Regions from separate parts of the Homo sapiens genome. Here region 1 is linked to region 2. Evidence: fine-mapped expression QTL. A gene starts in region 2. The other region holds a variant in brackets. All regions are shown on one strand. Distances are between the middles of the regions. Region 1 holds the start of RCOR2 (REST corepressor 2). Region 2 holds the start of MARK2 (microtubule affinity regulating kinase 2).

Region 1 (5,000 bases), 78 kb after region 2:
GTGAGGTTGGCAAGGTCCGGGCTTCCTGACACTGCCGTGAGGCCTTCAGGGCTCAGGTACATGCCCTTGGGTGGGCGACGCCGGGTTCGCAAGGGATGGTGGCGGTACTGAGACACCTGGACCTCCTTTTTCCCAGGGCCTGGGCGTGCATTCAGGGGCCGAGAGGGTAGAGGCTGCCAGTGAAAGGAGAGGCAGGTAGGTGGTGCAGAGCCAGAGAGAGGCAAGAGGACAGGCAGGCAGGGCCCAGAGGCTCTGGGAGCTCACCTCTCTCTTGGGATCTGCAGGATCGGGCTCTCCCTCACTCACGCCTCCTCGACCCTCTTCGAGCTCATCACTGCTGACACAGGGGCCAGGGAGGGAATGAGGCAGCTGCCAGGAGCTCTACCTACCCCCATGCCCAGTGCTTGCTCCTGCCCCCACCTGTCTTCTTTGTCCTTGCGGCCCCCCAGCCGCCGGGCCTGTCTGTCCATCACACTAGTTCGGCTGCGGGTCTTCTTCCAAGAGTAGTAGTATTTCACCAGGCTGGGAATCAACTTGTCAGGCAGCTGGAGGAGGCAACGCCAGAAGCTGGGGACCACTCAAGACTCTGGGCCCCAGGTAAGCTCTTCAGAAAGGAGGGGCAGAGGAGCGCCGGGGAGTGGGGGTGGAAGGGCTTTACCATCTGCTGGATCCGCTGGAAGCATTTGCCATGGAAGCCAAAGGCCTGTTCAAACAGCACCTTGTCCTCTACTGTCCACTCGTCAGGGAATGGGGTGAAGTTGGCCAGGTCGGCCAGCGACTTCTCCACATCGTGCTTATGCCACAGAAGCATGCCCAGCGCCTGGCCCGGGGCAAGGGGCAGCTGAGCCTGAGCTGCCCCGGCACCGTTCCACCCCATTCCCAAGTCCCTGGGGGCCAAGGCTCACCTGCTCAATGTTGTAGCCATGCTTCTCCTTGGCCATCGCAATGTACTTGTCAACTGCAGGGGCAGCAGGGGCAGGGTCTTGGTGAAGGGGGTTATAGCTCCTAACCCAGGCCTGTCCAGAAAGGGACCACCCCACAACGGCCAGGTCCCTGAACACGAGCCCCAGGGCAAGGGTTGGACCCACGAACACCTCAGCTTCCAGCCCCCTTCTGAGAAGAGCTAGCTTGGAGCTGGGATGAACCCAAGCCCCCACCTCCCAGGGCTGTGCCCCACTCACGCTTGGCATCTGACACACAGTGGTTGGGTGACCACACCAGCATCCCCTTCAGCTCCTTGTTGCTGTAGCGTGCGGGGCTCTCTGAAAGGCCGAGGAGCAGGAGGGAAGACACTCAGATCAGCCTGGTGGCACAAGCCTAGACCCATGGCCAGAGGGCAGCAGAGGAGTGGAGCCAGGGAGGTTGAGGCCCAGAAGGGAAGGAGGGGCAGAGACCCAGACAGGAAGGCAGGGCAGGAAAGCAAACCATGCTGGGGGGCCACCCACCCCTGCCAGCCTGCCCTTCCAGGGGAGCCAATCAAGGGCGCCCCAGGTGGGGCTGCAGGCCAAGCCCCGGGCCTCCACCCCCACCCCACTTCACAGCCTGTCCTGCGGCTCACCAGGCTTGCACTCCGGAATTACGGCCTGGTAATTGGTTCCAACGCGGATCATGCTGTCTGTGGAGCCAGGGGGAGGCAGTCAGGACTCCAGGGAGGGCGGGCGGGAGGGAGGATGTGGCGGGCGGGGGAGGTGGCCGGCCTGGAGTTCTCCTTCCTGACCACCCAGGGCCCCCACCTTCCAGGAGGCTCACTTTTCCCTCATTGTACCCCAGTTACCTGCAGCCACAGAAGGGACTGGAAGAGGAAAAGACCCTGTCCAGCCATGGCCATTGGGGCTGGAGGGTGGACAAGGGGACAGTTTTAGAGCCCAGGCCAAGCAGGGTGCTTTGTTCCGGGGGAGGGGAGCGGGGTTGGAGGGCAGCCCCTAGACCTGGACCACAGCCCTGCAAGGAACCCAAGGCTCCTTCCCACCACAGGAGCCTCACAGCTCTGTGTGGAGGTGTCTCTCCAGTCCCTGCTCCAGCCAGACCTCAGTCCCCTGCAAGGTGGCAAGGTATGAGGGACCCACTCTATGCAAGGGAGGGATGCCTCGGTCCCTGAGGGGGTGAGGGCAGGGCAGGGGCCGGCAGGACGCCTCCACAGCAGCTAGGGGCCCAGGTTCCAGATTGGCTGTGCCGGCAGCCTGGGTTTGTGGGAGAAGCAACGCAGAGGCTCCAATCCAGGAGAGGCAGGAGCCATCAGTGTAACAGGCTCGTGGTCTGCAACTCTTCCCCCTCCCGCCCCACTCCGCTCCCCCCAGGCCGGCGCGCCTTTAACCCTAGGCCACCGGGCTCACCGTGCGAGTGCTCCTCCTCGCTGCTGTCATCCTCCGAGTGGGGCTGTCCGCCGTTGGGCACCGTCTTGGCCCGGCTACGGGACAGGATCCCAGAGCCCGCGCTCGGCTTCTCCATCACTGAGGGCATTACCCCGCCCAGCTGCCCCGGGGGGCGCAGGAGCCTTCGGAGAGCGACAGTGGTTGCCGCACTCGCTCCGAGTGCCGAGCCCGGCCCGGCCTGGAGAGGTCGCCACTGAGGTTAGGAGAGGCAGGAGGTCAGCGTGGCTAGGGTCCGGCGGGGTGGGAGCCCACCTGGTAGCCCCAGCGCTCTCCACGACCCCCACGAGCCAGGGCGTCAGAAAAGTTTGTGCAGAAGTGGGGGACGCAAGGGATGAGCGCAAGGTCCGGTGCGGCTGGGGCGTGATTACTATGTACGCCCCTCAGGGTTGGGGTTCCCCTGAAGTCGGGGCCCCCTGTCCTCGGGGCGCCCTGGAACCCCACCGCCCACCTGCCCACG[C/G]CGTTCAGCGGCTGGGCGCTGGAGCGCAATCTGCGCCCCCCGGGCTCTGCGCCTCTCAGCTGCGCCGGGGATGCCCCAGTCCCCGGGCGGGGACCCGTGTCCTAAGCAGACCCCTGCCCGCGACGGCAGCCGGCCGGGGCACCGGCGGCGGCGGCGGCGGCGACGGCGGCGGGACGGCGCGCACGGCGCGCGGCGCTGGGCAGAGTTGCCGGGAGGCGGGCGGAGCGCAGCCGCGGGTGCCGCCTCGCACCCTCCCCGGCGCGCTCGCTCTCCCCGCCGCGCTCGGGATGCCGCTTGCTCGCCCGCTCTCCGCCGCCGCTCGCTCCTCGCGCACACAATGAAGCTGCTGGCAGGGAAGTAGTGCCGGCTGCGGCCTCAGCACCCCTCCCCCAGCCGATGCCTCCGCCAGCTGAACATCTGGCCCTGGGGTGGGAGGGAGGGCCCGGGGGGCGGGGCCAGGGGGCCGGGGCCAGACCTCCAGGGGGTGGGATCAGGACCCTGGTGGGGCGCGCGTCCCGCTGCGGGGGCTCCCCTCGCGTCCCTGGGCTCCCAGACTTGCCCCTGGGGGAGACCCCACTGCCCCCCAGGAGTAGCCAGGGGTCAGCCCCACCCACGCGCACACCAACACCACACACCAGTGGGCTCGGGTTACTGCCGCCTGCCCCGGGGGCCCTGGGGCCGCCTGCCCGCCCGCCCGGGTGGAGCCCAGCTTTTCCTTCCATTTCCCTTCCTGCCAAGGAACTCCCCGCCCCCCCTTCCGCAGGGGGGACCCCCCTTATGCGCCCTTGGGGGCCAGAACGGATGGGAGGCTGGACAGGCAAGGAATGAATTCCTCCAAGAGCTACCCAGCCAGAGGCTGGCTTCTGGTGGATCTGTGGGTCCCCAAGGGTCGCCCCAATTCCCTTTAACTGCTGCAGTATGCACCCCTAAACAGTGGTAGCAAGGGCTGAGGGATGGGGAGTGGGAGGTGTAGGGGAAGGTCTGGGCTGCAGGGGAGAGAGGAGCTGGGTCTCCTCCCCACTGGGTTCACTGTCACCCCAGCTGGAAGCAGCATCCCCCTCCCCCCGGACAAGCACGGGCAGAGTGACAGACAGGGAAGCGGGTAGAGCGGCACAGACGGAGATGGGGGAGGGGGTGGGCAGAGACTTTCAAAGCCAGACCCAGCCACCCTGCCAGGCACACAAAGAGCCAGCGCACACACCGGCGGCGGCTCCGAGCCTGCGAGCTGCGCCCGTGCCCGTCCCCGCCGCCCGGGGCACGTGCTGCAGCGCACACAAGCTGAAGCCCCCGCCCGCCGCCCCTCCCACCCGGAGCCCCAGTCTCCTGGACACACCTCCACCCAGGCACACCCCGCTGTGCCCAGACTGAGCCGAGCCCGCACTCGCGCCCTCCTCTCCCTTCCCTTCCTGGTCCACTCTGTAATCAGATTCCTAAATTTAGAAGCAGCCTAGGGCCCAGCCAGGGATCCCTGCCCCCACCCGCTGCCTGCGGCCGAGTGGCCGGGGTGTTGCGGTCGGGCCACGACCCGGCTGGGGCCGCTTGTTCCCGGGGACTCCTGCGGACAGCCAGGGAAAGCCAGGCTCGACCCCACCCGGCTGCTGCGCCGTCGAGCCACATGGGGCCACCCAGCCAGCGGCCACGTTGCCCGCCACACCTCGGGCCAGGGCTACGGGGCCTTTATCCTCCTCTTAAATCATGGATTGGGCACCAAGCCCCAGGGTGGGGAGGTCTGGACAAAGGAGAATGAATGGACCAGGGGCTGGTCTGAGCTAAGGAGGTCTGATTCAAGACTGAGAGTCTTCCCAGGCCGACCCCTCCTAAGTGGCAGGGCGCCATCCCTGTCCCCAGCACCTCCACCCTTTGGAGAGACTCTCATTTCTGTCCCCTCCTGCCTGGCAGGCAACCATTGCTGCACACCAGCCTCTCCTACGGTGCTGTCTTCCATCTTGCCCCCGCCCCCTATTAGGCAGGGCCTCAGTTGAGTCCCCCATCCCCCTTGCCTCCTTCCCAGACTCAAACCTGCACCCCCAGGCTCAGCATCCTGCTTATTTCTTGCCTCCCTACTCCAGGGCTGCCCCAGGTACCCCCAGTCTCTCTAGCAGGGATCCCCAGCCACTGGATTCCCTCCGGCCCAGCATCCCTCTTCCCCGCCTCCTAAGAACCTCATTCTC
Region 2 (5,504 bases):
AGTTGTTTTTTTTTTGTTTTGTTTTGTTTTGTTTTGAGACAGAGTTTCTCTCTTGTTGCCCAAGCTGGAGTGCAGTGGCGTGGTGATCTCGGCTCACTGCAACCTCTGCCTCCTGGTTTCAAGCGATTCTCCCGACTCCACCTCCCAAGTAGCTGGGATTACAGACGCCCACCACCGTGCCTGGCTAATTTTTTGTGTGCTTTTTTTAGTAGAGACGGGGTTCCACCATGTTGGCCAGGCTGGTCTCGAACTCCTGACCTCACATGATCCCCTCACCTTGGTCTCCCAAAGTGCTGGGATTACAGGCATGAGCCACCGCGCCTGGCAGGCAGAGATCTTTATCTTGTTCACTGATCTACCTAAAAGCCTAAAACAATGCCTTGCACATAGTAGGTGCTCAGTAGGGATTTGCTGAATGAATAAATGAATTTGCAGATTTAGAGAGGGGGTAAATGTGTGGCAATAATTCATCTTTGAGGAGAACTAGGAGGGTTCATGGATTTGAGTAGGTGAGATTTGAACTGGATCTTGAAGTGGTTCTGGAAGCTGAGGTGGATGATGGGCAATCATCTATCAGCTTGACCAAAGGCATGGAAGTGAGAGAGACTGGCAGCGGGGTAGGAGTTAGGGAGAAGTGTGATCAGTGATAGTTGGAGAGGTTATTGTAAGGCAATGTGAGGCCAGATTGAGCAAAGTTTTAAATGCAGGCTAAAGGCTTTTCCTACAGCCAGGACCAGCTACATAATTTGTGGGGCACAGTGCAAAATGGAAATGCATGGCCCCCTTGGTCAAAAATTTCAAGATAATGGGCCGGGCGTGGTGGCTCACGCCTGTAATCCCAGCACTTTGGGAGGCCGAGGCAGGTGGATCACTTGAGGTTGGGAGTTCTAGACCAAACTGGCCAACATGGTGAAACCCTGTCTTTACTAAAAACACAAAAAATTAGCCGGGTGTGGTGGTGGGCACCTATAATCCCAGCTATTCAGGAGGCTGAGGCATGAGAATCACTTGAACCTGGGAGGTGGAGGTTGCAGTGAGCTGAGATCGCACCACTGCACTCCAGCCTGGGAGATAGAGCGAGATTCAGTCTTAAAAAAAAAAATTTCAAGATGGTGACAGCAGAGCATTAATCCAAGCTCAGGGTCCACCTGAGCACAGGGCTCTGTGTGACTGCATGGGGTCGTGGGCCCAAGAAGCCAGCCCTGCCTATAACCAGTGAGGGAGCTGGTGATAGCTTTCTAGCAGAGCAGAGATGTTATTGGAGCTGGACTTTGGGAAGATTATTCTGACATGTCTGGTGCAGTAGGTTGGAGGGAGTCTAGGCGGGGAGACAAGCTCAGCAGCCTTGTGCAAAGCTAGCAAGGAAGAGAAAGGATAGGTAGGGTAGGGGTTGGGGATGAAGGTCAAAGGGCAGGGGTGAGGCAGGGGTTAGAGCTAGAGTGAGAAGCTTGGAGAAGATGGAGTCTATTTAGACGAGAGTGTGGACCAGGGAGAGACTGCTGGAACACCAACCACCAACTGCTTCCTCTCTCTTTTCCCTGCTTTCCAGACCCTGGCATTAGAGGTGATACCAGGCACAGGAATCAGCAACGTGTCTCCCTTTGGCCACCAGAGGGCAGATGATTCTCAAGGATCGAATTTGGGTTGGGGAGTGAGGTGTTCTCTGTCCTCCTCTTCTCTCTTTCCCTCACCTTCATGGGTGTGCCTTCACCTTCTTCCTCAACGGTTGGGTGCCTGAATAGAGCTGGTATGGGGCATGGGGAGCAGTGCTGAAGTCCCAGGATTTACTAAGAGTGTAGTGATACCTGTTGCCTTAGGAAGTACTTTCATACCCTGGTAATTACATCTGCTCAGATGCCTATTTCTCTGATTGATGGGATGAAGGCTGGCTCAAGATGCTGTAGCTGGGAGTTGGAGGTCAAGTAGCAGGGGTCCAATCAGCAGTTTTCCCAATAACTCCTGGAGCCTCTCTGCTCCTGTACCTTTGGGAACCTGTTGCCTGAGTCTGGTTTCTGACTCCTGCGGGGCCTCTGCCTCCTGCCCACCTTAAGCCACTGATGGGAGGGTGTGGTTCCAACGTGTTCCAGGTACTATGGGTGAGGACAGCTTGGCGCTGGGGAAATCAGCCCAGGATACTCCCTGTCCTTGGTAACGCAGTGTAAGGGGAAGTGAGGAATGGACTGCAGTTGCCATACAGACTTCCTGTTAGTCAAGGGCTCTCCAAAGCTGAGAAGGACCTCCGAGTTCATGAATCCAATGGCTTCACTTTACTGATGGGGAAAATGAGGCCCAGAGGAGGAAAGAAAAGAAACTTTAAATGCCTTATCTTGCAGAGGCATTTTAAAAGGTAACTGGAATTCAGAAATGTCATTTTGAATGTCAACGCAGGAGCAAAGGCAAAGGAAAGAGGAGCCTAAACTCAGTGATGTTATGTGATTTTTCCAAGATCACGCAGCATTGGCACTTGGCAGAGCTGGGGCTGAAATGCAGGGCCCTGGACGCTCCCGCATCCGGTGCAGAGGACGCTGCCCTGGGCCTGCCTGGGGCCTTGCCGAGCCCTGCGGACTAGATGCGGGAATGCACGGATGAATCCACAGAAGCCAAGATAGACGGTGGCAGACAGGCAATAGACTGATGCTGCATTTGACAGGTATATTGATAGGCTAGATGATAAAAAGAAGATGAATTTTATGAGCTGACCGACAGATGGACAGAAATGCAGACAGGAAGCTGCTATAGAACCAGAGGATGCCAATCACAGGGACGGCTAACAATCTTGTTTTGTATTTAGTCAAATCACAAGCACAGACAGGTGACCCACGCTTCCTGTTCAAGGTTTGAAAATGCCCGAAAACTGACGGAAAGACACGAAGCGAATCAGACTCCGAGAGCCACCCGGGGAAACGACCGGGTGCTCGGAGGGCCTCGGGTGTTGCCGGAAATGGCCGACGACCGCCCTCGGCAGGGCTGTGGGAGGGGGCGTGGCCGGCTCAGCACGCGGAGCAGCTTCGGGTATTTCCGGAAACTGCCGAAAGCCCCCTTGAAGTGGGCGGGGAAAGGCCGGTGGGCGTGGCTGGATGGCCGTGGACGGGGGCGGGGGGTAGGCACCCGGGGTCGCTTCGTGGATTTCCGTAAACAGAGCCGAAGCTTCGTCTTCGGAATCGAGGAGGAGAGCGCGTCCCCGGGGTTTACCTTCTTCGGCTGTTTCCGGAATTCACCCGTAGTCTGTGGCCGGGAGGAGAAGGCGCGCCCCACCTCCCGTTTCTAGCCGCTTCGGATGTTTCCGGCTGCTGCCGGCGAAAAGAGCCGAGGGCCGGCGGTGGTGGCGGCCATGTTGGGAGCAGCAGGTCCGGCGGCGGCTGCCTGTGTGCCGGGCGCGGAGCAGTGCCGCTGAGGGCAGGGGAGGAGCGAGGCAGGCGGCCGGCTGCGGCGGCAGAGAGTAGGCGGAGCGGCGCGGCCCGGCCGAAAGGCGGCACAGCCCAGCCGGGGGTCGGGGGGGTGCGGTCCGGAGCCGCTCGGAGCCGGCGCGGCCTAGCCCGAGCGGCGCATCCCCGGGCTGGCGTGAGCGGCTGCCCGGCCTCCCCGCACCCCCGGCCGGGGCCCATGCGGCGGGTGCTCCTGCTGTGAGAAGCCCCGCCCGGCCGGGCTCCGCGCCTTCCCTTCCCTCCCTTCCTCCAAGCTTCTCGGTTCCCTCCCCCGAGATACCGGCGCCATGTCCAGCGCTCGGACCCCCCTACCCACGCTGAACGAGAGGGACACGGAGCAGGTAAGGAGCCCCGAGGGCTCCCCGAATTCTCTGGCTGGGCCCTTTGCACCTTGCGGAGCCTCCTCCCTCTTCTGCTCTCCTCGTGCCCCTGCTGCCATCCTGCAAGCCTCGGCTGCCCTGTCATCCGGCTCCTGGCTCCGGCTCCGCACATCCCGCTTCCGAGTCCTGACCTGGGACCCACCTCGTCCTGACTCCAAGCTGCACACTTGTCTTTCTGCCAACCCCCGTCTCCCCTCACCGCCCTCCTGCGCTCTTCCGTGTCACCTCCCCAGCTTCCCTTTCTCTTCCCTTTTTCTCTCAGGGGCCTTTCTGGTCTTCCTCCACCCACGCTTAAAGCAGCCACCCTCCCGCTCCTCGAATAGCAGCACCCCGCGATTTGCCACAGATCGTTGTCCACCTCTCCCTTCGTCTCTCCTGCCTCGCTTCCCCTCCGCCCGCACCGGTTCTGCCAGTCTCTGGGTTATCACCCTCAGGGTCCTTGCCCTGGACTGCGCTCTCGATCCCTGGCCCCTTGCAGTTCCCCCAGCTTTTTCTACCCTGCTTCTTCGTTTTCCAAATTGTGCTCTCCCTCTTGCTTGCAACCCACCAGCTCCACCCTCATCACCTTTCCAAATCCTTCGCCTACTCTTTGCTCATCACTTTCCCTTCTTTGCTCCAGGAGCTCCCTGGATCCTGGCGCTGGCATTTGTCGCTTCCGTGTTTCCCCACAGCTGTCATGCGCATAGTTTTCCCACAGGTTGCGTTTGGGGTTCCAATCATCACTCCCTTCAGAGTCTTTGGATCCCTCTTGTTCTCTTCCCCTCGGGTTTGGCTTTTAGGTCCCTGGGCCTCTTGTTTCTCTCTGTGAGTGTTCTACCAGCCTTCTACTGGGCTCTTTCTCCCAACCCAAAGACACTTGGCCCCACCGTATTAACACAACCTGTTGCTCAGTCCTTTCCCAGACCTCGCTGCATCACAGTTTTTGCCTTTCTGTCTTCGTACGCTGGAACACAAACCATGATGACTTTCTGTGTCTTCACTCCCGTGCCTGGCACTTAGAGTATTTTCTTTCTTGCTTGTTGCCTTCCTGTTTCTCCACCCTCACCCCATCTTCCTTACTGTGCCTTTTAATCAGCGTTGCCTTTCATCTCCGCATTAGTCTCCTGCCTTCTTCATGTCCTGTGTATCCCCACACCGTGCTTGGATCCATTCTGTTCCTATTGGCTAAGTCTCTGTAATGCCCAGGAAGTCCAGGTGTTTTGCATGCTAGTTTCTTGAGCTACACCTCAGCCTCACGACTCTACACGGTCCCCCTCATCCTGGCAGTCACTGCTATGTTTTTCACCCAAGTCTTAGCCTTTCTGTGTCATCTCACTTTTGATCCCAGAGACGTCCACTTTCCACACCTCCCCTTTCTTTCACCATCTCTAGCGTCCTTTGCTGACTGCTCTGTGCAGAGTCCCCTGCCTGTCATACCTTTCTTGGTGGAGAACTTTACTAGGCCAAAAAAACTTGACTTGAAAAAGAAGTGCTTCTGCCCCGGGGCTGCTGTGCTTTTTGCCTTCTTTCCCCTCCTTCCATCCTTTATGTTTCCCTCTTACTCCCTTCTTTCTTTGTAGCCCGGTAGAGCAGTTGTTGTATTCTCTTGCATGTGAACATTCTTCTTTGAAAAATCTTACCTCCTTTCTTTTACTGTGTTTTTCTATTTTGTTACCCCCTGGCCCTCTGTCACCTGGGCAGTTAGGAACTAAAGAGAAGT

What was found. PIP is the estimated chance that this variant, and not a neighbour inherited with it, causes the effect.
Region 1: its variant is fine-mapped to the expression of MARK2 in whole blood (TOPMed, PIP above 0.99).

The regions. Positions count from the first base shown.
Region 1 is chr11:63,913,997-63,918,996 of GRCh38, forward strand. It overlaps RCOR2 (REST corepressor 2), which reads right to left and starts at 3,168. Exons shown (of 12, transcript NM_173587.4): 1 at 2,334-3,168; 2 at 1,559-1,615; 3 at 1,182-1,262; 4 at 906-958; 5 at 659-820; 6 at 421-545; 7 at 265-334; 8 at 1-173. The coding sequence starts at 2,460. RefSeq lists enhancers at 671-1,623, 2,245-2,908 and silencers at 3,000-3,119, 3,260-3,319, 3,997-4,046. The variant C/G (reference allele first, on the strand shown) is at 2,830.
Region 2 is chr11:63,835,795-63,841,298 of GRCh38, forward strand. MARK2 (microtubule affinity regulating kinase 2) reads left to right here and starts at 3,316. Exons shown (of 19, transcript NM_001039469.3): 1 at 3,316-3,766. The coding sequence starts at 3,713. RefSeq lists enhancers at 2,002-2,990, 3,251-3,400 and a silencer at 3,411-3,650.